Linked DNA regions of Homo sapiens: region 2 is linked to region 1. Evidence: fine-mapped expression QTL. A gene starts in region 1. The other region holds a variant in brackets. All regions are shown on one strand. Distances are between the middles of the regions. Region 1 holds the start of COLGALT1 (collagen beta(1-O)galactosyltransferase 1). Region 2 has its middle 40 kb from the start of COLGALT1.

Region 1 (5,374 bases):
ATTGGCTGTTTTATTACTGAGCATCTAAGATCTTGCAAACCACATTCACTAACAAATATGTGTCACTTAATTTTTTTTTTCTTTTGAGACAGAGTCTTGCTCTGTCACCCAGGCTAGAGTGCAGTGGCACAATCTTGGTTCACTGCAATCTCCGCCTACCAGGTCCAAGCAATTCTCCTGCCTCAGCCTCCCGAGTAGCTGGGATTACAGGTGCCCACCACCATGCCCAGCTAATTTTTGCATTTTTAGTAGAGATGGGGTTTCGCCATGTTGGCCAGGCTGCTCTCGAACTCCTGACCTCAGGTGATCCACCTGCCTCAGCCTCCCAAAGTGCTGGGATGACAGGAATGAGCCACCGCACACGGCAATTTTTGTAATGTATAGATCAGGCCAGGCACGGTGGCTCACGCCTGTCATCCCAGCACTTTGAGAGGCCGAGGCGGGTGTATCACCTGAGGTCAGGAGTTTGAGACCAGCCTGGCCAACATGGCGAAACCCCATCTCTACTAAAAATACAAAAATTAGGCCGGGCATGGTGGCTCACGCTTGTAATTCCAGCACTTTGGGAGGCCGAGGCGGGTGAATCACTTGAGGCCAGGAGTTTGAGCCTAGCCTGGCCAACATGGTGAAATCCCATCTCTACTAAAAACACAAAAAATTAGCTGGGTGTGGTGGCGGGCACCTGTAATCCCAGCTACTCAGGAGGCCGAGGCAGGAGAATCGCTTGAACCTGGGAGGAGGAGGTTGCAGTGAGCCGAGATCGTGCCACTGCACTCCAGCCTCAGCAACGAGAGCGAGACTCAGTCTCAAAAAATAAATAAATAAAAAATATTAAAAAATGAAATGTATATATCAGAAACCAGCTGGGTGCAATGGCTCACGCCTGTAATCCCAATATGTTGGGAGGCCGAGGTGGGCAGGTCACTTGAGCTCGGGAGTTCGAGACCAGCCTGGCCAATAGGGCAAAACCCCATCTCTAGAAAAAATACAAAAATTAGCTGGGCGCAGTGGCATACGCCTGTAGTCCCAGTTACTCAAGAAGCTGAGGCAGGAGAATCACTTGAGCCCAGGAGGGGGAAGTTGCAGTGAGCTAGGATTGCACCACTGCACTCCCGCCTGGGCGACAGATGTAAAACCCTGTATCAAAAAAAAAAGTATATCTCAGCAGGGCGCTGTGGCTCATGCCTGTAATCCCAGCACTTAGGGAGGCCGAGGCAGGCAGATCATGAGGTCAGGAGATCAACACAAGCCTGGCCACAATGGTGAAACCCTGACTCTATTAAAAATACAAAAATTAGCCAGGCATGGTGGTGCGCACCTGTAATCCCAAGCTACTCGGGAGGCTGAGGCAGGAGAATCACTTGAACCCGGAGGCGGAGGTTGCAATGAGCTGAGATCGTGTCACTGTACTCCAGCCTGGGCGACAGAGCAAGATTCCGTCTGAGAGAAAAAAAAAAGTATATCTCAAAGTATATCTCATAAATCCCTTACCCTGCCTTCATCTTCTCCTGTGAGCCACACCACTTCAGTGGGCTGCAGTCAATTATTCATTCAACAAACATTTGTTAAGTACCAATTGTGTATTTGGATTATCCAGACTGAGAAATCAGGTGGAAGGAAAAGCGACATTTGGGAGTTTAGTTTGACCGTAGTGCCAAAAGCTAATTCTGCCCAATAAATTAAGTTGACAATAACACCAGCAATGACAGTAATCATGATAATAAAATCACTGAGAGCCAAGCCCATGCCAGACCCAAGGGCTCCACATCCATTAACTGGATAATCTTCAGAGACAAACCCAAAAAGAGAATTATATTAATACGCTCATTTTCTTTTCTTTTTCTTTTTTTAGAGGCAGGTCTTACTCTGTAGCCCAGGCTGGAGTGCAGTGGTGCAATCATAGGTCACTGCAGCCTCGAACTCCTGGGCTCAAGCGATTCTCCTGCGTCAGCCTCCTGAATAGCTGGGACTACAGGCACACACCACCGCACCTGGCTAATTTTTGTATTTTTTTTCTAGAGACGGGGTTTTGCCATGTTGGCAAGGCTGGTGTCGAACTCCTGAGCTCAAGTGACCCGCTTACCTTGGCCTCCCAAATTGCTAGGATTACTGCGTGAGCCACTGCACCCGGACCCATTTTCCATTTGAGAAAACTGAGGCAGGGAGTGAGAAGTCACCAGTCAAAGGTTTCTTCAGAGCTCTGCCCCATTCCCTACCAAGAAAGCATCCACTTCCTCCTGGGCCATCTGGTCCTGGACTCCACCCACGCCGGTCTGAGGGCAGGGGTTTGACTGGGGCCTGGAGCCAGGCTGAGTTCAAGCTTAAGGGCAGCAGCCGGCACAGAAAGGCTTGCTGTTAGATGTGGCCTCTGGCAACGCCCCAGTGGGGGCTCTGGGCTCCGTCCTTTGGAGGTGTACGTGCCCCAGAGGGAGTTAGAGCCCCAGTTAGTGAGGCCGGAGCTGCCCTAGTAGGGTCCAGCAGGCAGAAGCGGTGCCCAGCCCACCCCAAAGGAGCCAGCAGGAGGAACTCGGTCCCGCTTGTGTTGTGGGGAGGGCTGTGTCTGGCCCCATGGGAGGACAGCAGGCAGGGGGCACGCGTGGACCCGTCCCGATGGGGGCAGCGGGCAGGGGCATGCGTAGAACCGTCCCGATGGGGGTAGCGAGCAGGAAGCACGCGCGGACCCGCCCAGAAGAGGACAGCGGGCAGGGGCTCGCGTGGACCCACCCCTATGGGGACAGCAAGCAGGGGCTCGCGTGACCCGCCTGATGGGGACAGCGGGCTCGACTCACCATAGCGCCGTGCGCTCCCGCGGGTGCCGCAGCCGCTCGAGTGCGCCCAGCGTGGTGGGCAACGCGTGGGCCGCGTTTCGCGCCAACAGCGCGATGAGCACGCGCGGCGCCTGCAGGGGCGACTCCGGGCTCCAGCGCTCCTCGGGGAAGTAGGCGTCGGCGCCCGGCGGGGCCCCCGGCGGCAGTGGCGCCAGCAGCAGAAGCAGCAGCGCCAGGAGCGGCTGCCCGCGCCGCCGGCCCGCGCGTGGGGCCGCCGCCATCGCGCCACGCGTCTCCTTTAAGTCGTTTTTCTGCGGGAGGACTCTGGCCGCGCCTTAAAGGGGTCATAGGGGCCCCGCCCGGCCGCGCGCCTTAAAGGGGAGGAGCGCGCCGGGCGTGAAGTCCAGGCCCCGCCTCCAGACGCTCTCCGAGTCCCAAGGCCCGGAGTGACGTCACCTGCAGCCCTACCCAGGACGCCCCGCCCCCGCACCGATCTTAAAGGCACATAGCGCTCGGAGCGCGTGGAAGGGATGTTAGGGGTAGCGTTAGGGTTAGGAACCCGCGCTTCCTCCAGGCGCCTCCTACCACTGAGACCTCCGCCAGATGCGCCGCCCAATTTCCCCATGTATAAAACCCGGGCTGTGCCACCAGGCGGACTTGGCTACTTAGGACCTGGTTTGGGACCCAAGAGACCTTAGCCTCAGTTTCCTCTGCTGCAACGTGGGTTTTGCCATCCTGGTTTTGGATCTCACAGGGATGTCATTGAGGGTTGTGGAGAATAAAGGTCATGACGTCCACAGACCTGGCGTCACATTCAGTCCCCGCCTTGGGCTTGCTATATGTGAGCCTCAGTCTGTCCATCTATAAAATGAGATCATAGAGACCCTATAGGGTTGGCGTGAAAATAGAGCCAGGGCATGATAATGGACCGTTCTGGGCACAAGCTCTTCCAGAGACAAGGGCCATGTTTTCATGGAAACGCTGTCAAGGGATTGTTTTCCAATACTCTAGAGCCGCATTTTCAAATTGATTGACTTAGTATCACACTTTTTTTTTTTTTTTTTTGAGACGGAGTCTGGCTTTGTTGCCCGGGCTGGAGTGCAGTGGTGCAACATAGCAAGACCGTGCCTCTATTTTTAAAAACAATAAAAACTTTAAAAAATACATCTGAACATTATTATTATTATTATTATTATTTTCTTTTTTTTTTTTTTTGAGACAGCGTCTCACTCCATTGCCCCGGCTAGAGTACAGTGGCGCGATCTCGGCTCACTGCAACCTCCGCCTCCCGGGTTCAAGCGATTCTCCTGCTTCAGCCTCCTGAGTAGCTGGGACTACAGGCACGCGCCACCACGCCCGGCTAATTTTTGTTTATAGTAGAGATGGGGTTTCACCATATTGGCCAGGCTGGTCTCGAACTCCTGACCTCCTGATCCGCCCACCTCAGCCTCCCAAAGTGCTGGGATTACAGGCGTGAGCCACCGCGCCCAGCTTATTATTATTTTCACAGAGAGGGTCTTACTCTGTGGCTCAGGCTAGAGTGCAGTGGCATGATCACATGATCATGGCTCACTGCAGCCTCAACCTCCTGGGCTCAACTGATCCTCCTGCCTCAGCCTCCCAAGTAGCTGGGACTACAAGTGCACTCAACCACGCCCAGCTAATTTTTAAATTTTTTGTAGAGATGGAGTCTCGCTATGTTGCCCCGGCTGTTCTCAAACTCCTGGTCTCAAGTAATCCTCCCCCTTCAGCCTCCCAAACTGCTGGGATTACCAGTGAGCCATCATGCCCCGCTAAAACTTAATTTTTAAGAATGATACAGGCCAGGTGCAGTGGCTCACGCCTGTAATCCCAGCATTTTGGGAGGCTGAGGCAGGCGGATCACTTGAGGTCAGGAGTTCGAGACCAGCTTGGTCAATATGGTGAAGCCCCCATCTCTTCTAAAAACACAAAAAATTAGCCGGTCATGGTGGCGCTTCGCCTGTAATCCCAGCTACTACGGAGGCCGAGGCAGGAGAATCACTTGAACCCAGGAGGTGGAGGTTGCAGTGAGCCAAAATCGCACCACTGCATTCCAGCCTGGGTGACAGAGTGAGACACCGTCTCAAAAAAAAAAAAAAAAAGGTAAAAACAAATTTACACTCTGTGGACTTGATGAGGAAAGGTCTTTTCATATTAAGTAAGAAAAAGGAGGTGACAAGATACATCCCATCCCATCTGGAAGGATTTAGACCCAAGGGCAAACAATGTTTTTCTCAAAAGGGGCAGGATGACAAATTCTTGTAGCTGCAATTGTTCCAGAATTAACATCTACATCCCGTCCGGGGTAAAAGGAAGACAGCTAAAGAAGCCTATGAAGTGCAAATGTATTGAGCAAATGTATTTCGGAAGGTGGGGTTGGAGGGAAATAGGTGGAAAGGTCAGGAATATCTCATTGTCTTGGGGTAGGCCGAAAACTCCAGACAGAATGGGAGGAAACGGTCTCCAGGGAGTGTGAAAGTCCCTCTGCAAGCTGAACCAAGAACACACGGGAATCCCTGTGGAACCCACTCCGGAAGCAGCTGCAAGACAGCAGAGAAGCTGCCAATATCCAGTTAGCAGATGAC
Region 2 (5,374 bases), 40 kb before region 1:
AGAATCATTTGAACCTGGGAGGCAGAGGTTACAGTGAGCCGAGATCCTGCCATTGCACTCCAGCCTGGGTGAGAAGAGTGAAACTCCATCTCAAAAAAAAAAAAAAAAAAAGGAAGGAAACCCCGTCTCTACTAAAAATACAAAAAATTAGCCGGGCATGGTGGTGGGCGCCTGTAGTCCCAGCTACTCGGGAGGCTGAGGCAGGAGAATGGCGTGAACCCAGGAGGCAGAGCTTGCAGAGAGCCGAGATCGCGCCACTGCACTGCAGCCTGGGCGACAGAGCAAGACTCCGTCTCAACAACAACAGCAATAATAGAAGCTGGCCCAAACCCACCAAAACCAAGATGGCGACAAGAGTGACCTCTGGTCATCCTCACTGCTACACTCCCCCCATCACCATGACAGTTTACAAATACCATGGCAACATCAGGAAGTTACCCTATTTGGTCTAAAAACGCAAGGCATGAATAATCTACCCTTCCTTTAGCATATCATCAAGAAATAACCATAACAATGGGCAACCAGCAGCCTTGGGGCTGCTCTGTCTATGGAGTAGCCATTCTTTTTTTTTTTTTTTTTTTTTGAGATGGAGTCTTGCTCTGTCACCCAGGCCGGAGTGCAGTGGCGCGGTTTCGGCTCACTGCAAGCTCCACCTCCCGGGTTTCATGGGCGTCCATGTGAAGAAAAAGGAGCATCTATACAGGAGCTCAAATGGGCTGTACCCTGTAGCATTCTGAGGACAGGTCTGACTTCTGAGAAGGGAAAGTGGTAAAAGTATTGTCCGTCCTTTTTAAGTTGGTGGCTGAGCTTGGTGAGGTGTGTTTTTAAAAGACCTTTAGTCCGTTCTACTTTTCCTGAAGATGGAGGACTGTAAGGGATATAAAGATTTCACTGAATACCAAGAGCCTGAAAAACTGCTTGGCTGATTTGACTAATAAAGGCTGGTCTGTTATCAGACTGTATAGAGGTGGGAAGGCTAAACTGAGGAATTATGTCTGACAGAGGGGAAGAAATGACAGCGGTGGCCTTCTCAGACCCTGTAGGAAAGGCCTCTACCTATCCAGTGAAAGTGTCTACCTAGACTAAGAGGTATTTTAGTTATCTGACTCGGGGCATGTTGAGTAAAGCTAATTTGCCAGTCCTGAGTGGGGCAAATCCTCGAGCTTGATGTGTAGGGAAGCGAGGGGGCCTGAATAATCCCTGAGGAGTAGTAGAATAGCAGATGGAACACTGAGAAGTGATTTCCTTGAGGACAGATTTCCACGATGGAAAGGAAATGAGAGATTCTAAGAGGCGGACTAGTGGCTTGTACTATAGCATAGCCTGCCTTTGCTGGTGTGTGGCGATTAGGCCTGGTGGAACTGCCATCAATAAATCAAGCGTGATCAGGGTGAGGAAAAGGAAAGAAGGAAATATCGGGAAATGGGGTGAATGTCAGGTGGATCAGAGAGATACAGTCATGGAGGTCAGGTGTGGTATCAGGAATAATGTGGGAGGCCAGATTGAAGTCCGGGCCAGGAACAATGGTAATTGTGGGACTTAACAAAGAGTGAGTACAGCTGAAGGAGCCGGGGAGCAGAAAGCATATGCGTCAGGTATGAGGAAGCAAATAGATTTTGGAAGTTATGAGAAATGTAGAGAGTGAGTTAAGTATAGTTTGTGATTTTTAGGGCCTCTAAATGTATTAAAGCAGTGGCAGCCGCTGCACGCAGACATGAGGGCTAGGCTAAAACAGTAAGGTCAAGTTGTTTGGACAGAAACGCTACAGGGTGCGGTCCTGGCTCTTGTGTAAGAATTCTGACTGCACTAACCATGCCTAGGAAGGAAAGTTGTTGTTTTGTAAGGGATTGAGGTTTGGGAGATTAATCAGACACGATCAGCAGGGAGAGCACGTGTGTTTTTATGAGAATTATGCCGAGATAGGTAACAGATGAGGATGAAATTTGGGCTTGATTGAAGTAATGGGGGCTGTCTGTGAAGCCTTGCGGCAGTACAGCCTAGGTAATTTGCTGAGCCTAATGGGTGTCAGGGTCAGTCCAAGTGAGAGCGAAGAGAGGCTGGGATTAAGGGTGCAAAGGAATAGTAAAGAAAGCATGTTTGAGA[T/C]CCAGAACAGAATAATGGGTTGTAGAGGGAGGTATTGAGGATAGGAGAGTATATGGGTTTGGCACCACGGGGTGGATAGGCAAAACAATTTGGTTGATAAGGCGCAGATCCTGAACTAACCTGTAAGCATCGTCTGGTTTTAGGACAGGTAAAATGAGGGAATGGTAAGGAGGGTTTATAGGCTTTAAAAGGCCATGCTGTAACAGGAGAATGATAACAGGTTTTAATCCTTTCAAAGTGTGCTGTGGGATGGGATATTGGCATTGATCGGGGTAAGGGTGATTAGGTTTTAATGGGATGGTAAGGGGTGCATGATCGGTCGCTAAGGAGGGAGTAGAGGTGTCTTATACTTGTGGGTTAAGGTGGGGAGATACAAGGGGAGGATGTGAAGGAGGCTTTGAACTGGGGGAAAAGGTGGCAATGTGGTGTGGCTGTCACCTAGGAATAGTCAGGGAAGCAGATAATTTAGTTAAAGTGTCTCGGCCTAATAAGGGAACTGAGCAGGTGGGGATAACTAAAAAGGAGTGCATAAAAGAGTATTGTCTTAAGTTGGCACCAGAGTCGGGGAGTTTTAAGGGGTTTAGAAGCTTGGCCATCAATACCCACAACAGTTATGGAGGCAAGGGAAACAGGCCCTTGAAAAGAAGGTAATGTGGAGTGAGTAGCCTCCATATTGATTAAGAAGGGGATGGGCTTACCCTCCACAGTGAGAGTTACCTGAAGCTCGGTGTCCGTGATGGTCTAGGGGGCTTCCGAGGTGATCGGGCAGTGTCAGTCTTCAGCCACTAAGCCGAGAAGATCTGGGAAGGAGTCAGAGAGCCTTGGGCCAGAGTTCCAGGGGCTCTGGGAGTGACTGCCAGGTGAGTTGAACAGTCCGATTTTCAGTGGGGTCCCACACAGATGGGATACGGCTTAGGAGGAATCCTGGGCTGCGGGCATTCCTTGGCCCAGTGGCCAGATTTCCGGCACTTGTAGCAAGCTCCTGGTGGAGGAGGTTCTGGAGGAATCCCTGGCCACTGCGGTTCAGGCGTTTGGAGTTCTTTTGTGCTGGAGATGTGGCTGGGGTTTGTCTCACAGTGGAGGCAAGGAACTGCAGCTCAGAAATACATTGCTACTTGGCTGCCTCTACTTTATTATTGTACACCTTGAAGGTGAGGTTAATTAAGTCCTGTTGTGGGGTTTGAGGGCCGGAGTTTAATTTTTGGGGTTTTATTTAATGTCAGGAGTGGATTGGGTAATAAAATGTATATTGAGAATAAGACAGCCTTTTGACCTCTTAGGGTTTGGGGCTGTAAAGCGTCTCAGGGTTGCTGCCGAACGAGCCACGAACTGGGCTGGGTTTTTCATGTTTGATGAAAGAGTCTAAATGCTAACTGATTTGGGAGAGGTCGGATAAAGAAAAAGGAGCATTAACCTTGACTATGCCTTTAGCTTCAGCCACCTTTTTAAGAGGAAATTGCTGGGCAGGTGGGGGAGGGCTAGTCACGGAATGAAACTATAAACTGGACCGGGTGTGAGGAGGGGAGGTGATAAAAAGATTACAAGGTGGAGGAGCGGAGGCTGAGGAAGAATTGGGACCTAGCTCGGCCTGGTGAGCAGCAGCCTGGGGAGGAGGGGAGAGGTCAGATGGGTCTGTAGAAAAGGAAGATTAGAAAGACTCAGGGACGCTTGGGGATGGGACTGAGGGGACAGGAGAGACGGAAAGAAGGAAGACTTGGGACGAGTTGCACTGGGCACAGAGACTAGGGAGGGACCGATGTGTAAAAGAATGCCTGGACGTCAGGCACCTCAGACTGTTTGCCTATTTTACGACAAGAATTATTTAGATCTTGCAGGATGGAAAAATTGAAAGTGCCGTTTTCTGGCTATTTGGAACCACTGTTGAGTTTGTATTGGGGTCAAGCAGCATTGCAGAAGAAAACAAGGCATTTAGGTTTTAGGTCAGGTGTGAGTCAAAGAGGTTTTAAGTTCTTGAGAGCACAGGCTAAGGGAGATGGAGGAGTGGAGCATGGAAGGTTGCCTATAGTGAAGGAGGCAAGCCCAGAGAAAAGAGAGAGTAGAGACACAGAGGGAAGGGGTTTGGGGGTTCTTACCTTCCAGAAAAGCCAGAAAGGGGTCAGGGTGCAAAAATAAGGGGTTGGGGCACAGAGATAAGAGGTCAGGGCACGGAAATAAGGGATGGGGCGCAGAGATAAGAGGTCGGGGCATGGAAATAAGGGATCGAGGCACAGAGATAAGAGGTTGGGGCATGGAAATAAGGGATTGGGGATTCTTGCCCCTTAGAAAAGCGGGACTTGCCGCTAAGGGTGAAGGACCAAGGCAAGCATCCCTGCATGGTCTGACACCTCTGAAATGTGGGTGAATAATCAGAGAGGCGTTCTTGCAATGATTAAACACCAAGGGAAGGCTGCCTTCCTAGTCCGTGACCGGTGCCAGAGTTTTGGGTCCACAGATAAAACATGTCTCCTTTGTCTTTACCAGAAAATGAAAGGAATTGAAATTAAGAGAAGGGAGAGATTGAAGTGTGGCGCCAATATTGAAAGGAGAAAGAGGTTGAGGGATAGTGAGGGAGGTTGGAGAAGAGAGTGAAAATAGGCCGCTTACTGGATTTGAAATTGGTGAGATGTTTCTTGGGCTGGTCGGTCTGAGGACCCGAGGTCGTAGGTGGATCTTTCTTATGGAACAAAGAACAGGAGGACAGGGGATTGATCTCCCAAGGAAGGTCCCCCGATCTGAGTCACGGCACCAAATTTCATGCGTGTCTGTGTGAAGAGACCACCAAACAGGCTTTGTGTGAGCAATAAAGCTTTTAATCACCTGGGTGCAGGTGGGCTGAGTCTGAAAAGAGAGTCCTTGAAGGGAGATAAGGGTGGGGCCATTTTATAGGATTTGGGTAGATAAAGGAAAATTACAGTCAAAGGGGGGTTGTTCTCTGGCGGGCAGAGTGGGGGTCACAAGGTGCTCAGTAGGGGAGCTTTTGAGCCAGGATGAGCCAGGAGAAGGAATTTCACAAGACAATGTCATCAGTTAAGGCAGGAACCGGCCATCTGGATGTGTACATGCAGGTCACAGGGGATATGATGGCTTAGCTTGGGCTCAGAGGCCTGACACTGGGTTCATGCCATTCTCCTGCCTCAGCCTCCCGAGTAGCTGGGACTACAGGCGCTCACCACCATGCCCAGCTAATTTTTTGTATTTTCAGTAGAGACAGGGTTTCACCGTGTTAGCCAGGATGGTCTCAGTCTCCTGACCTCGTGATCCACCCACCTTG

The links. PIP is the estimated chance that this variant, and not a neighbour inherited with it, causes the effect. A credible set is the group of variants that fine-mapping cannot tell apart.
Region 2: its variant is the best candidate, but not a certain one, in a credible set for the expression of COLGALT1 in tibial nerve (GTEx, PIP 0.66).

What each region holds. Positions count from the first base shown.
Region 1 is chr19:17,553,389-17,558,762 of GRCh38, reverse strand. It overlaps COLGALT1 (collagen beta(1-O)galactosyltransferase 1), which reads right to left and starts at 3,114. Exons shown (of 12, transcript NM_024656.4): 1 at 2,790-3,114. The coding sequence starts at 3,049. It overlaps NIBAN3 (niban apoptosis regulator 3), which reads right to left. Exons shown (of 15, transcript NM_001321827.2): 15 at 5,123-5,374. RefSeq lists a silencer at 2,947-3,036.
Region 2 is chr19:17,593,405-17,598,778 of GRCh38, reverse strand. No RefSeq gene overlaps it. Among named protein-coding and RNA genes, the nearest start is that of COLGALT1, 40 kb to the right of the region's middle. RefSeq lists an enhancer at 1-246. The variant T/C (reference allele first, on the strand shown) is at 2,104.